Regions from separate parts of the Homo sapiens genome. Here regions 1 and 2 are each reported to be linked to region 3. Evidence: microRNA targets listed by miRTarBase, many of them from high-throughput screens and not tested one by one. Region 3 holds a microRNA gene; each other region holds the end of a gene's coding sequence.

What was found. The annotated mature microRNA hsa-miR-4668-5p reads AGGGAAAAAAAAAAGGAUUUGUC and lies in region 3 at 1,803-1,825, opposite strand. An mRNA with a match to its seed (bases 2 to 7 or 8) in the 3' UTR can be bound and repressed. Matches are read on the target gene's strand: a 7mer-m8 pairs with bases 2 to 8, a 7mer-A1 pairs with bases 2 to 7 and ends in A, and an 8mer does both.
Region 1: the mRNA of ACADSB is a reported target of hsa-miR-4668-5p. Seed matches in the 3' UTR shown: 7mer-A1 at 2,652-2,658 and 7mer-m8 at 4,022-4,028.
Region 2: miRTarBase lists TMEM220 as a target of hsa-miR-4668-5p. The part of its 3' UTR that is shown has no 7-base or 8-base seed match.

What each region holds. Positions count from the first base shown.
Region 1 is chr10:123,053,397-123,057,643 of GRCh38, forward strand. It overlaps ACADSB (acyl-CoA dehydrogenase short/branched chain), which reads left to right. Exons shown (of 11, transcript NM_001609.4): 11 at 299-4,247. The coding sequence ends at 369. Among named protein-coding and RNA genes, the nearest start is that of ACADSB, 47 kb to the left of the region's middle.
Region 2 is chr17:10,711,760-10,715,975 of GRCh38, forward strand. TMEM220 (transmembrane protein 220) reads right to left here. Exons shown (of 6, transcript NM_001004313.3): 6 at 1,536-3,829. The coding sequence ends at 3,694. It also overlaps the pseudogene MAGOH2P. Among named protein-coding and RNA genes, the nearest start is that of TMEM220-AS1, 16 kb to the right of the region's middle. RefSeq lists a silencer at 1,183-1,383.
Region 3 is chr9:111,929,678-111,933,924 of GRCh38, reverse strand. It overlaps MIR4668 (microRNA 4668), which reads right to left and starts at 1,825; the gene lies at 1,756-1,825. UGCG (UDP-glucose ceramide glucosyltransferase) reads right to left here. Exons shown (of 9, transcript NM_003358.3): 6 at 4,247; 7 at 2,568-2,654; 8 at 1,566-1,755; 9 at 1-1,098. The coding sequence ends at 928.

The sequences.
Region 1 (4,247 bases), not on the chromosome of region 3:
GTAAAACTGCCACAAATAACAGTCTGAGCTTATGCATCAATTGTTGAAGAATCAAAATCTTCAACTTTTGTTTACACCTTTAGTCAGTTTAATACTGATCCTGGACATCGAGAAACCAAATGGAAAATTGTCATCTCTTAGTCAAAATTACTGTGAAATAGTACCATATTCAGGGGACATGAAGTGATGTGACTAGTAACTGTTTTATAGCAAGCGCAGAGGTGATGTTTATAGAGCTATTTCTTGTCTTAACCATGCGCCAACTCCTCATTGTTCCTTCTGCTTCCTTTTGCTTAAGGTACGATATATGAAGGAGCTTCCAACATCCAGTTGAACACCATTGCAAAGCATATCGATGCAGAATACTGACGTCTATAGGAGTGGGACCCCTCCCTGGTGTCACTGCTGTAAAATTTTAAACGGTTGTGTCTTGTTGGGAGTAAGTGCCTTGCGTGGGAATAAACTTCCACAGCATTCGAATATTTTAATGAAGCCCTTAGTCAGGGTCCTGGTGTTGGCCTTTTTGGTTTTCTCTTTTCAGGCTGTTTAACTTAGGCACAGGAGATCCACTTTTAAACTTGGGAAATAAGCACCTGTATTTTTTTCCAAAACTGTTTTTAAAGCTGTATACGCATACATATATATATTTTTACTCTGTCTTACTCTGTCACCCAGGCTAGAGTGCAGTGGCGCGATCTCAGCTCACTGCAGCCTTGACCTCCTGGGTTCCAGTGATTCTCATGCCTCATCCTCCCAAGTAGCTGGAACTACAGGTGTGCACCACCATGCCTGGTTCATTTTTGTGTTTTTAGTAGAGATGGGGTTTTACCATATTGCCCAGGCTGGTCTTCTGGCTTCTGGATATCGCCCACCTTGGCCTCCCAAAGTGCTGGGATTACAGGGATGAGCCACCGTGCCTGGCTGGGTATTTATATTATCATTCTAGTTTCAGAGTATACAGAAGTTTCATCCCATCATTTGGAAAAATAAAGGCATCTGAAGTACAATATTACTTATAGAAATAGTTTATATTCCTATTAAATCTTAATCTTGTGGCATCAGGGAAATATTTGTTACATAGTAGGCAATTTTTATCCAGTACTTTATAGATTCAACTCTAAGTTGCAAGCGAAGTCAAAACTGATGAAAATTTATTTAGAAAAATCTAAAAATTCTGGTTTTAAATATGAGAATCAGTGGAAAATAAGGGTATAATTTTGTAGGTCATATGATTGAAGAAAATATTATTTTAACAATGTAAAGCAATATGATTTGTTACTATAATTAACCTGTATAAAAGATACATTTTATGGTGGTTTCAGTAGGTCATTTTAAAAACCAATGTGCATTAGTTTTCAAGTATAAGGTTTAAGTAATTTGGTTTAATAATCAGAAAATATTCAATACAGTGTTGGATATTCTGTCATGCACTATTTTTCAGTTGACAATTTCTGTATTTTAATTGAATACTGTTTCTTCAGTCATGGTTATTGCACTTTATCCTGAATAATAATTCAGAAATTGGGTTTTGGTTCAGTGATTCTCAAGAAAAAGATCTCTTGCCCATTAAGAAGTGTATCAAAATCTCATAAGGAATGAGGGAGAGAAGGGGGCTGTAGAGTTTGAAAAAGCATATTCAATATTAAAATAGTTTTATATTTGGGAAGGCAAAAATGAATCTATTGTTTTGCAATATAGGTTATAAACAGGCAAAATGCAATAAAATATATATCTGGTTGTATTAGTCTGTTTTCACGCTGCTGATAAAGACATACCTGAGACCAGGAAGAAAAAGAGGTTTAATTGGACTTACAGTTCCACATGACTGGGGAGGCCTCAGAATCATGGTGGGAGGCAAAAAGCACTTCTTACATGGCGGCAGCAAGAGAAAATGAGAAAGAAGCAAAAGTGGAAACCCCTAATAAACCTATCAGATCTTGTGAGACTTACTATCACGAGAATAGCACAGGAAAGACTGGCCCCCATGATTCAATTACCTCCCCCGGGTCCCTCCCACAACACATGGGAATTCTGAGAGATACCATTTAAGTTGAGATTTCAGTGGGGACACAGCCAAACCATATCATTCTACCCCTGGCACCTCCAAATCTCATGTCCTCACATTTCAAAACCAATCATGCCTTCCCAACAGTCCCCCAAAGTCTTAACTCATTTCAGCATTAACCCAAAAGTCCGCAGTCCAAAGTTTCATCTGAGACAAGGCAAGTCCCTTCCACTTATGAACCTGTAAAATCAAAAGTAAACTAGTTACTTCCTAGATACAATGGGGGTACAGGTATTGGGTAAATACAGCCATTCCAAATGGGAGAAATTGGCCAACACAAAAGGGTAACAGGGCCCATGCAAGTCCAAAATTCAGCAGGGCAGTCAAATTTTAAACCTCCAAAATGATCACCTTTGACTCCACGTCTCACAATCATCTCTCTCAAGTTCGAAGTTCCACAAATCTCTAAGGCAAGGGAAAGATGCTGCCAGTCTCTTTGCTAAAACACAGCAAGAGTCACCTTTACTCCAGTTCCCAAAAAGTTTTTCATCTCCATCTGAGACCACCTCAGCCTGAATTTTATTGTCAATATTGCTATCAGCATTTTGGGCAAAGCCATTCAGCAAGTATCTAGGAAGTTCCAAACTTTCCCACATTTTCCTGTCTTCTTCTGAGCCCTTCAAACTGTTCCAACCTCTGCCTGTTACCCAGTTCCAAACTTGCTTTCATATTTTTGGCTATCTTTTCAGCAATGCCCCACTCTACTGTTAGCAGTTTACTGTATTAGTCTGTTTTCACACTGCTGATAAAGACATTCCTCAAGATTGTGAAGAAAAAGAGGTTTAATTGGACTTACAGTTCCACATGGCCGGGGAGGCCTCAGAATCATGGCGGGAGGTGAAAAGCACTTCGTACATGGTGGTGGCAAGAGAAAATGAAGAAGAAGCAAAAGTGGAAACCCCTGATAAACCCATCAGATCTCATGAGACTTACTATCATGAGAATAGCACAGGAAAGACTGGCCCCCCTGATTCGATGACCTCCCCCTGGGTCCCTCCCACAACATGTGGGAATTCCAGAAGATAAATTCAAGTTGCAATTTCAGTGGGGACATAGCCAAACCATATCACTGGTGATGCCACTTCTTCAGTATTAGGGATTCTCAGTCAGAAGAGACCCCCTGTGTGGCCTGAGTCCCCTCAGGAGGAAGGTGGACAACAGAGAAATGAGAGTTTTGATATTTTCTGAAAGAGGAACATGTGTTAGAGATGAAGAATCTTCCAAGGCTCATGCAGTTGCTTAGAATAATCATTACTGTTATATGAGAAACATTTTAGTAATTTAATAAAAGGATAATGTTTATTTAAAAAACCTGACTTTTCCAGAGTAATTTTGTTTTGCACATTCATGTTTATTGAAGTGGACTAATTTCTATAATGCAAATCAGAGTTAAATATTAAAAATTGTGTAAATACAATTGACATAGGAATTACATTAAAATATTAGGAAGAAACAAGGACAAATTTAGACCTTGAATCCGAAGAGATAAAGCTTACTTGACTTTCAAATGGAGAGATGATGAAAACCCACTCATTCACTCTTTCAGAACAAAAAGACAGTCATCTGATAAGAGTATGACATGGATGAAATGCCCTACAGGGGCCTTGGACATCTTTAATTTCTGCGATTATGTGAAAGAGGTGGACTTTACAGATAATGGAGCAGAAGCCAACATTAGTAAAAGGAATCCCAACTTCTTCCCATAGAATTAGAAACATGTGAAAGTACAATAAACTTCTTGTTCAAATTACCAGCATCAGAGAGCTTCCCATTTGCATCTAGACCTTGAATTTATATTTATTGATCAAGTTCTAATTTGTATGTATATTTTGTGCATATTCACCAATAACAGTTAAAATTAATTATGTGTTATAGTTAATATATGCACCTACCTTCTTCCGTTAGTGCATCAGTAAATGTGTTATTTTGTCATTTTTCCAAAGAGAGTGTTGTAGGTTTTCCCTGTAGTTCTTCCTTTATAGCTTTTCTTCTGATAACCATGACTTCAGGAGCTTTAAAACTATCTATCTTGCATTTGTGTCTGGCGGAGAACTAGCCATCAGCCTCCTGAAGCCTGCCATCATTGTTAATTTGAGGACTGGGCTGTCTTGGGGCTCAGAAGATAAAGAACTATTTGAGCAGATGTGTGTGGGTGGCACTGGATTCCACCCAACTGCCAAGT
Region 2 (4,216 bases), not on the chromosome of region 3:
CATTGCTGTGTGAAGCTACAGCAGGTAAATAAATTTACACTGACTCCCTTTATACACTAATGGGACATGTTTAACACCGTTTTCATATATGCTAAGGCTTATGTGTAGAAACATTAGATGGCAAATGGGGACTATTCAGGTGTGGAGAAAGTTTGATTCAGGGCCTAAACAACTATAAGAAATAAGCATGCCTGTTGAATACATGGGCACTATAGGGATATAAAGGAGTGTTAGCTTTCTATGGCTGCTGTAACAAATTCCCACAAACCTGGCGACTTAAACCAACATATACTTGTTCTCTTGCAGTTCTGGAGGTCAGAAGTCTGAAATCATTTCCACTTGGCTGAAACCAAGGTGTTGGCATGGCCATGCTCCCTGAGGAGGGTCTAGGACGAATCCTTTTCCAGCCTCCAGAGCTGTACTTCTTGCATTCTGTGGCTCATGGCCCCTTCTTCTGTCTTCAAAGCCAGCAGTGTAGCATCTTCAAATCTTTCTTTACTGTCGTATCATATTCTCTGCTGTCTGTAGTCAGATCTACTTCAGCCTTCGTCTTGCAAGGACACTTGTGGTAACATTCAGGGCCCAACCAGATAATCCAGGTAACCCCCATCTCAGGGTGGGTTAATCACATCTGCAAAATTTATTTTGTGATATAAGGTAACATATATCCAGGGATTAGGACATGTATCTCTCTGAGGGCCACTGTTCAGCTGACCACAGAGGTGACTATAATGTACTCTTGCACTCATAGACCTTACCATGAATTAGACAGACATCCATGATTCAAGTGTGTGAAATTTGCTGTCACACAAAGAAAGGACTGAGGGAACATGGAGGATGAATTTAATTTTGTTCGAAGGGATTGGGGATGACATGCAAAATGAAGAAAAATGGCTTGAATAAGTGGGGAAGAGTATATCAAGTAAAATAGCAAAAGCAGAGGCATTGAAGGATATGCCAAAGTCAGACATGGCAAGTCATGCTGTGACGATTCACCAGAAAGGTGCCGGGCTGGGAGAAGGGGGATGTGGCAAGAAATATGGCAGAAAAGGACAGGCTGGGGCCATATTATGGAGAGCCTTGAATGATGAGCCAAGAGTTAGAATTTAACTTGCCAGATAGTGTGGAGCCCTTAGGGCTTTCTGAGCTGGGGAATACGTGATTAGATTTGTGTGAAATAGAGAAAAATGGAAGAAAAATGTGAAGGTGTGAAAGATTTTAATAATAGAGGCTGGGTATGGTGGCTCATGCCTATAATCCCAGCACTTTGGGAGGCCGAGGTGGGTGGATCACCTTAGGTCAGGAGTTCCAGACCAGCCTGGCCAACATGGTGAAACCCCGTCTCTACTAAAAATACAAAAATTACCTGGGCATGGTGGCAGGTGCCTGTAGTTCCAGCTACTTGGGAGGCTAAGGCAGGAGAATCACTTGAACCCAGGAGGTGGAGATTGTAGTGAACTGAGATCGCGCCATTGCACTCCAGCCTGGGGGACAGAGCAAGACTCCATCTCAAAAAAAAAAAAAAAAGATTTTAATAATAGAAATATTAAATTTAATAATAATACTTAAATTCAATTTCATTAATACTCTTCAAAAGACTATTCCACCAAAAGTGCCTTTTATATGCTTAACTGAAGATGCGAAAGAGACTATGAATAGTCACATAATTTCGTAGTCTGATATGGGAGAGGCATACATGATGAAAGCACATCTTGAACATTACTGTCTTTAAGCACAGAAGTAAACATGACTTGGTCAATGGATAGAGCCCACAGGGAATTTGCAAATGAGTCTGTTTTTTTTTTGCATGTGACTTCAGTAGTTTATTAATACTAAAGGAGTTATAAAAGCCACAAATATGTAAGCAAAATATACACTGGAAAACTCAAATCCTTTATGTGTATTTTACTGACCCTTAAGTTTCACTTTGACTGTTTTAATATCAACTAGATTTGTTTTCCCCCTTTTTACTCATTCAAGTCTTAATCTTAGATAATTTCTCACCATTCAGTGGCCACTGTGCCAATAACAAAAACAAAATACACATACCTCCTTTAACAAATATTTATAGAATATTTACTATAGTAATAAAGACAATAAAAATAGACAAACTACCAGACTCATTTACACTCTCCTAACCTGTGGAAGGCACTACTCGTTCTTTTTGAGTGAAGTATTTCCCAGATCTCTTTCCTAGATCAGAAAAAACAGTATCTGACCACAGAGTTTGATGCTTGTGTATGTAAAATGTTGCCATCTAGATACTTAAATACAGGACTGTCCAACAGAAATGCAATGTAAGCCACGTAAATAAAAGTAAACAGAAACAGATAAAATCAACTTTAATAGTATATTTAACCCATTATAGCCAAAATATTGTTTCAACATGTAATCAATACAAAAAATATTTTCTGTTCTTTTTCTACCATGTCTTTAAAATCCAGTGTATTTTACATTTATAGCCCCACTCATTTGGACACTAAATTTTCATTGGAAATACTTTATCTGTATTTAGGTATCATAAAATTTGCAATTGGAAAATTAGATTCAAATACCCAAGTTGTTCCAAACACAATTGTAAGTTTTCCAATAATCAAGTATCCATTTTTAAATGAAAATGGAAATGAAAAAAAAAAAAGCTCTCCTCCCTAGGATTACTTTGGACATCCATTTATAAAGAATGTATATAGATTTTGACCTTATTTCTCATTTAGAATGTAGTTATAGTCCCTATTGCCTTCTTGTTTGGTCCCTAATTCCTTTATTCTATCCAGCTTCCCTTTCTTTCCAAGACATGCCTGCTCATTTGATTCATCTAGAGTTCTCCTTTAGTTCACTGCACTATGCCAGCTCTGGATAAGATTAGTTTAGGGCTGGACTGGGCATGGTGGCTCACACCTGTAATCCCAGCACTTTGGGAGGCCAAGGTGGACAGATCGCTTGAACTCAGGAATTCAAGACCAGCCTGGACAACACGGTGAAACCCTGCCTCTACAAAAAATTTAAAAAAATTTAGCCGGGCATGGTGGTGCACACTTGTAGTCGTAGCTTCTTGGGAGGCTGAGGTAGGAGGATCACCTGAGCCCCGGGAGGTCAGGACTGCAGTGAGCCATGATCATGCCACTGCACTCCAGCCTGGGCAATAGAGTGGGACTGTCTTAAAAAAAAAAAAAGATCGGGGTATAGCCCTCTCTTGAATGTCTATTTCAGTATATTACCCAATCCCTGCTCCCCTCTATTTTAATCATGGGCAGCCCTCCGTAATCTTTCCAAACACTTTATATCTTCAGAGTGTTCTTACATTATCTAGATTGATCCTTGTTACTGTGTAAGTAAGTAGATCTGGCATTAATCCTATTTTATAGATAAATATCCACCAGGAGGTTTATATATTTGCCCAAATTACATAGTTACAAAGTTAAGTTAGAACTCGTATTTTTAAACTTCTATTCTCTAGCCTTTTCCACTACATTATGACACAAGACCCTGCAGAAAGTCGTCTGGAAAATATCAGACCATCTCTTACTTGTCCCATCCAATCTTACATCGAATTATATGCACCCTTAAAAAGTTATTTGGAGTTTTAAAACTATTAGCCCAAATTACCTGAAATAAACTCCTGGCTTGTTCCCCTAATGTTTATAAAAAATTGATTGAAAATATTCATTTTAAAAACGAAGTTCTTGAATTTATTTAAATTACTGTCTTGCAGTGAGTTGGCCAAGAGGACCGCATTTCCTTGTTAATATATATGTAGACCCATGAGATAAATGGGAAAAGTGTGATTACAATGGCAATAGCCAATTGAATTCTTCCACCAACTGGATTCCTATAAAGACACAAAAATTATTATAAATAAAAATCATGGATTGCTTTGGAAACAAGTATAAAGACTGAATTGATAAAACACATAATTACATTTTAGTATGTTCTCATCTCAGTTGTTTTATTGAAATATAACATTGATTTATAGAAATTATTTATATATATGCTAAATATAAATCCTTGTTTATATGTGTTACAAATACCTTGTCCCATTTGATGTCTTTTGAGGAAGAGAAGTCATTGATTAATTTGACAATGTTAAAGTTGATCTTTTCCTAATGATTTTTGTGCTGTTTAAGAATTTCCCTCACCAAGGTTTTGAAGGTATTCTCTAGAAGTTTTGTTTTGCTTTTTTTAAATTTTATCACATATTTATTAAAGATAATCATTT
Region 3 (4,247 bases):
AAATGCATTTTTTCCTTACAACTATCAAAACATCCACTCACACTAAAATGAAACCACTCCCAACCCCCCCTGAAAAAATGTTAAGGGAAGACGGGGTGGGCTGGGGGAGGAGCAAGGAAGGAAAAGATTTAGCTATACTAATTACAGCACAGTGATTAACAATGGTTCAAGACAGAACCAACAAGAGTTGGTCAAAAAGATGCCTTCAATACATGGCTACAATTAAAAACCAAACTCAGCCGCTTTTGGTTCATTGCAGTGAGACCAAAAAAATTATCTCTCACAGATTCATATAAATACTAGACTCCAGCTCTTATATCATTTTTTTTTAAGTTTTTCTGTTTGTTTCTGCAAGGCCTAGCTATCTTATTACAATTTATATTTGCTCTGCAACAACTACAAGAGGTAGGCATAAAGCATGAAAAAGTTTCTCAGTTAGTACCTCGCCATGTGTTGTTCACTGCACAAAACCATTCACTTTGGACATGAATAGTCATTCCTTCTATTATCTTCTAAACTCTAAAGCAAAGCTGCTGCCACCCGTAAATGTTCTAAAAGAGTGTACTCACAAGTAAGAAACTTTCTCTACTGAAGGATACTGTCACAGAGTTTGTTGCAGAGCATCTATATATATATTTATTTATTTATTTTAAAAAAATAAACAACAATGATGAACGAACCCAGGTTCCTAGAACCAATTCTCTTGATTCTCTACTTCCACAAAATAAAGTGTATCATTTGGCCAAGACTACAGATGTGTTTTTTTTTTTTTTCACAGATGCAAGTGCCATGCAAAAATAAATTAAAGAACAGATACCAAAACATACATGTGATAAAACTACAGAAGGTAGATTTTTAAAAGCATTTATATAAACATAATTTATAATACTTCTCTTTTTTCCTTTATATACAGTCACAAAGCTGTAGTTATACATCTAGGATTTCCTCTGCTGTACCCCCACAGCGTAATCTGTAGCGACCAGTTCTCCAGCTTATAGTTGGGTCCCATAATGCAGACAAAAAAATGTATATTGTCATGGATTCGCGGATGAACCAGGCGACTGCATAATCAAGTTTTGAAAAACACAGTGTGCCACCCTAGGAATGGAAAAAAAAATTTTTTAATTTCACTCACTGTCAAACTAAAGACAAGGTTAAAAAATTAAATTCTTGGATTTCACTTTTCTAAGTATACTATGTAAAATCAAGTCTGCTTCCTTATGTAATTTAACTGCCATGTTATACCGTTCAAGAAAATGCTAATTGTTAATGAAGCATTAAAATAACTGCTATCTTAATGTCTTATTAGTTTCAATACTCACTGATTTAATTAACTTCATGTTTTTGGAAACTTAATAAAAGCGATTATATAACCAATAGAAAGTTGCAAATCGACTTAAGTTTTGCATCAACATTCCACTAGAGAAAGTCATGTTCAAACCCGAGACTAACCTACAATGGGAAGCTGAAGAATGGCTCAGATACATTTCCTTCAACTTTTTCTAAATTGAAATAGTTCTAGTTCCACCAAGGGACTGCCAACCTTTTCATGCCTATCCACATACCTGGACACCCCTGAGTTGAATGTAGTCAAATATAAACCATGCCAGGCAATGACACATGAAAAATACCATAATATCCCATCTGAACACATGGTGGGCTGCCCATCCAATAATTAAACTGGCAACAAAGCATTCTGAAATTGGCTCACAAATTATTGTAGCAGGAAGCATGTTAATTCGTAGTTTGGTCCACCTGGAAAAACAAAAAGGATTTTCTTTAAAACAATATCCTGGCTACAAGACAAATCCTTTTTTTTTTCCCTCAAATAATCAATTTTTTTACCCTGTGATAGAAAGACCATTCTCTTTAAACTTTTTTTGTTTTGTTTTTTTTTTTTTACTTGAGACGGGGTTCTGCTCTGTCACCCAGGCTGGAGTGCAGTGGCACTCACTGTAGCTTCAATCTCCCAGGCTCAAGCGATCTTCCCACCTCATCCCACCAAGTAGCTGGGACCACAGGTGTACACGCCACCACACCTGGCTAATTTTTGCATTTTTTGTAGAGACAGGGTTTCACCATTTTGCCCAGGCTGGTCTCAAACTCCTGGGCTCAAGCAGTCCTCTCGCCTTGGCCTCCCAAAGCGCTGGGATTACAGGTGTGAGCCACCACACACAACCTAAAAATTTTTTTTAATGACTCTCTTTTCTATTTTTGTCTAGGATGTCAAAGAAAAATGTCTTTAAATTCATTTGTATGGCCTACGCTCTGATGAATACAGATAATAAAATTTAATCAGCACAGAAAGTTAGAAAATAAAGATCAGCATATTAAAAAATTCAGTCTCAACATTTCTCTAATGAGTGCTTTCAGTGTTATACAGCAAATAAAATACATTTAGACATTAAATTTATCTTAAACACAGACGTTAAACTCTATTTTCTGCAACTAAACAAAAATCTTCAACCTTTAGGTACATTCATTTAACTACATTAAACCTGTAAAAATTACCACCCCCCTCCCCACTTTCCTTTTAACGAAGTATAAAAAGAAAACAGTTGATTTACCTGATCATTCTGGATTGAAACTGAGAAATTGAATATGAGCCAGAGTTTTGCATTGCAACTTGAGTGGACATTGCAAACCTCCAACCTCTGAAAATTAAGATAATTAGAAAATAAGTTATGATGATGAACACATGCAAGCGTAACTGGTTATGCATTCAGTAATCATTATAAAGACCAGGCAACTGCCGGTATTCAGGGTGAGCCCAGCTTTCATGATTAGCACATGACTTAAGGTCTACCATACGTATGGATGTTTTAGCAATTATGCTGGCCCGTGACAGCACCATCTAAGAACTAGAAGAAACTGTACCCACCTTACTTTACAATTTAAGAAACTTAAAATGCAGTCATTTTGAAAAAAAATGGAGAGGGCTCCATATTTAATAGATTAGTCTCTGATGACTACTAACCAAACAACAAGACATGTAAACAGAAAGTGGCATTATGGATCTCATGGGAGACACTAGGAAACCATGAACCACATGAACACAATCATGACAGAATTTGTATTTAAAACACACTTCAGTTTTTAAAAAATTTAAAAGAATTCTCACACAAGGCAGTGATCTCCTTTAAAAACAAGTATTTTAGGCTGGATGCAGTGGCTCATGCCTGTAATCCCAGCACTTTGGGAGGCTGAGGCGGGCGGATCACGAGGTCAGGAGTTCAAGACTAGCCTGGCCAACATGGTGAAACCCCGCCTCTACTAACATACAAAAAAAAGTAGCTGAGTGTGGCGGCGGGTGCCTATAATCCCAGCTACTTGGGAGGCTGAGGCAGGAGAATCGTTTGAACCCAGGAGGCGGAGACTGCAGTGAGCCGAGATTGCGCCACTGCACTCCAGCCTGGATGTCAGGGCGAGACTGTCTCAAAAAAAAAAAAAAAAACCAAAACAAAACAAGTATTTTGTGATAGAGAAATGCTAAGTCAGTCATATGAATCTTTCAGTGGCTTCTTAGCAAAGTATCATATAATTCACTGACAAATTTCAAATTTTGAAATGATAGTCTTTAAATTTTCACCTACTAGTTTATGACTGCACTGATAGTTTTAATTCTTCTAAAACACAGAAATTTGTATCTATATAGTAAAAATTCTAAACACAGAGAAACTTACTTTTAATCGCTTTAAAACACATTAATTTGAAAAATGTAGAGGAATCAGAACATTTACCTTCTTCATTAGTACATATCTACAATTCTATAATTAGAATATGAATTACTCTATAAAATTATTGATCTGCTGGGTGTGGTGGCTCATACCTGTAATCCCAGCACTTTAGGAGGCCGAGGTGGGCAGATCACTTGAGTTCAGGAGTTCAAGACCAGCCTGGCCAACATGAAGAAACCCCATCTCTACTAAAAATACAAAAATTAGTGTGCATGGTGGTACATGCCTGTAGTCCCAGGTGCTCTGGTGGCTGAGGCATGAGAATCACCTGAACCCGGGAGGCAGAGGCTACAGTGAGCCAAGATCGCGCCACTGCACTCCAGCCTAGGTGACAGAGCAAGACTCTGTCTCAAAAACAAACAAAATAATAAAATTATTGACCTATTCTGTACTTACTAGCAAAAAAAATAAAATTAAATTAAAAAGCCCTAATCTATAGGTTGAACAAAAAGAATAAACCAACAGAAGTTAGGTAATAAAAATACTATGGCTTCATTTAGTTGTCTTACC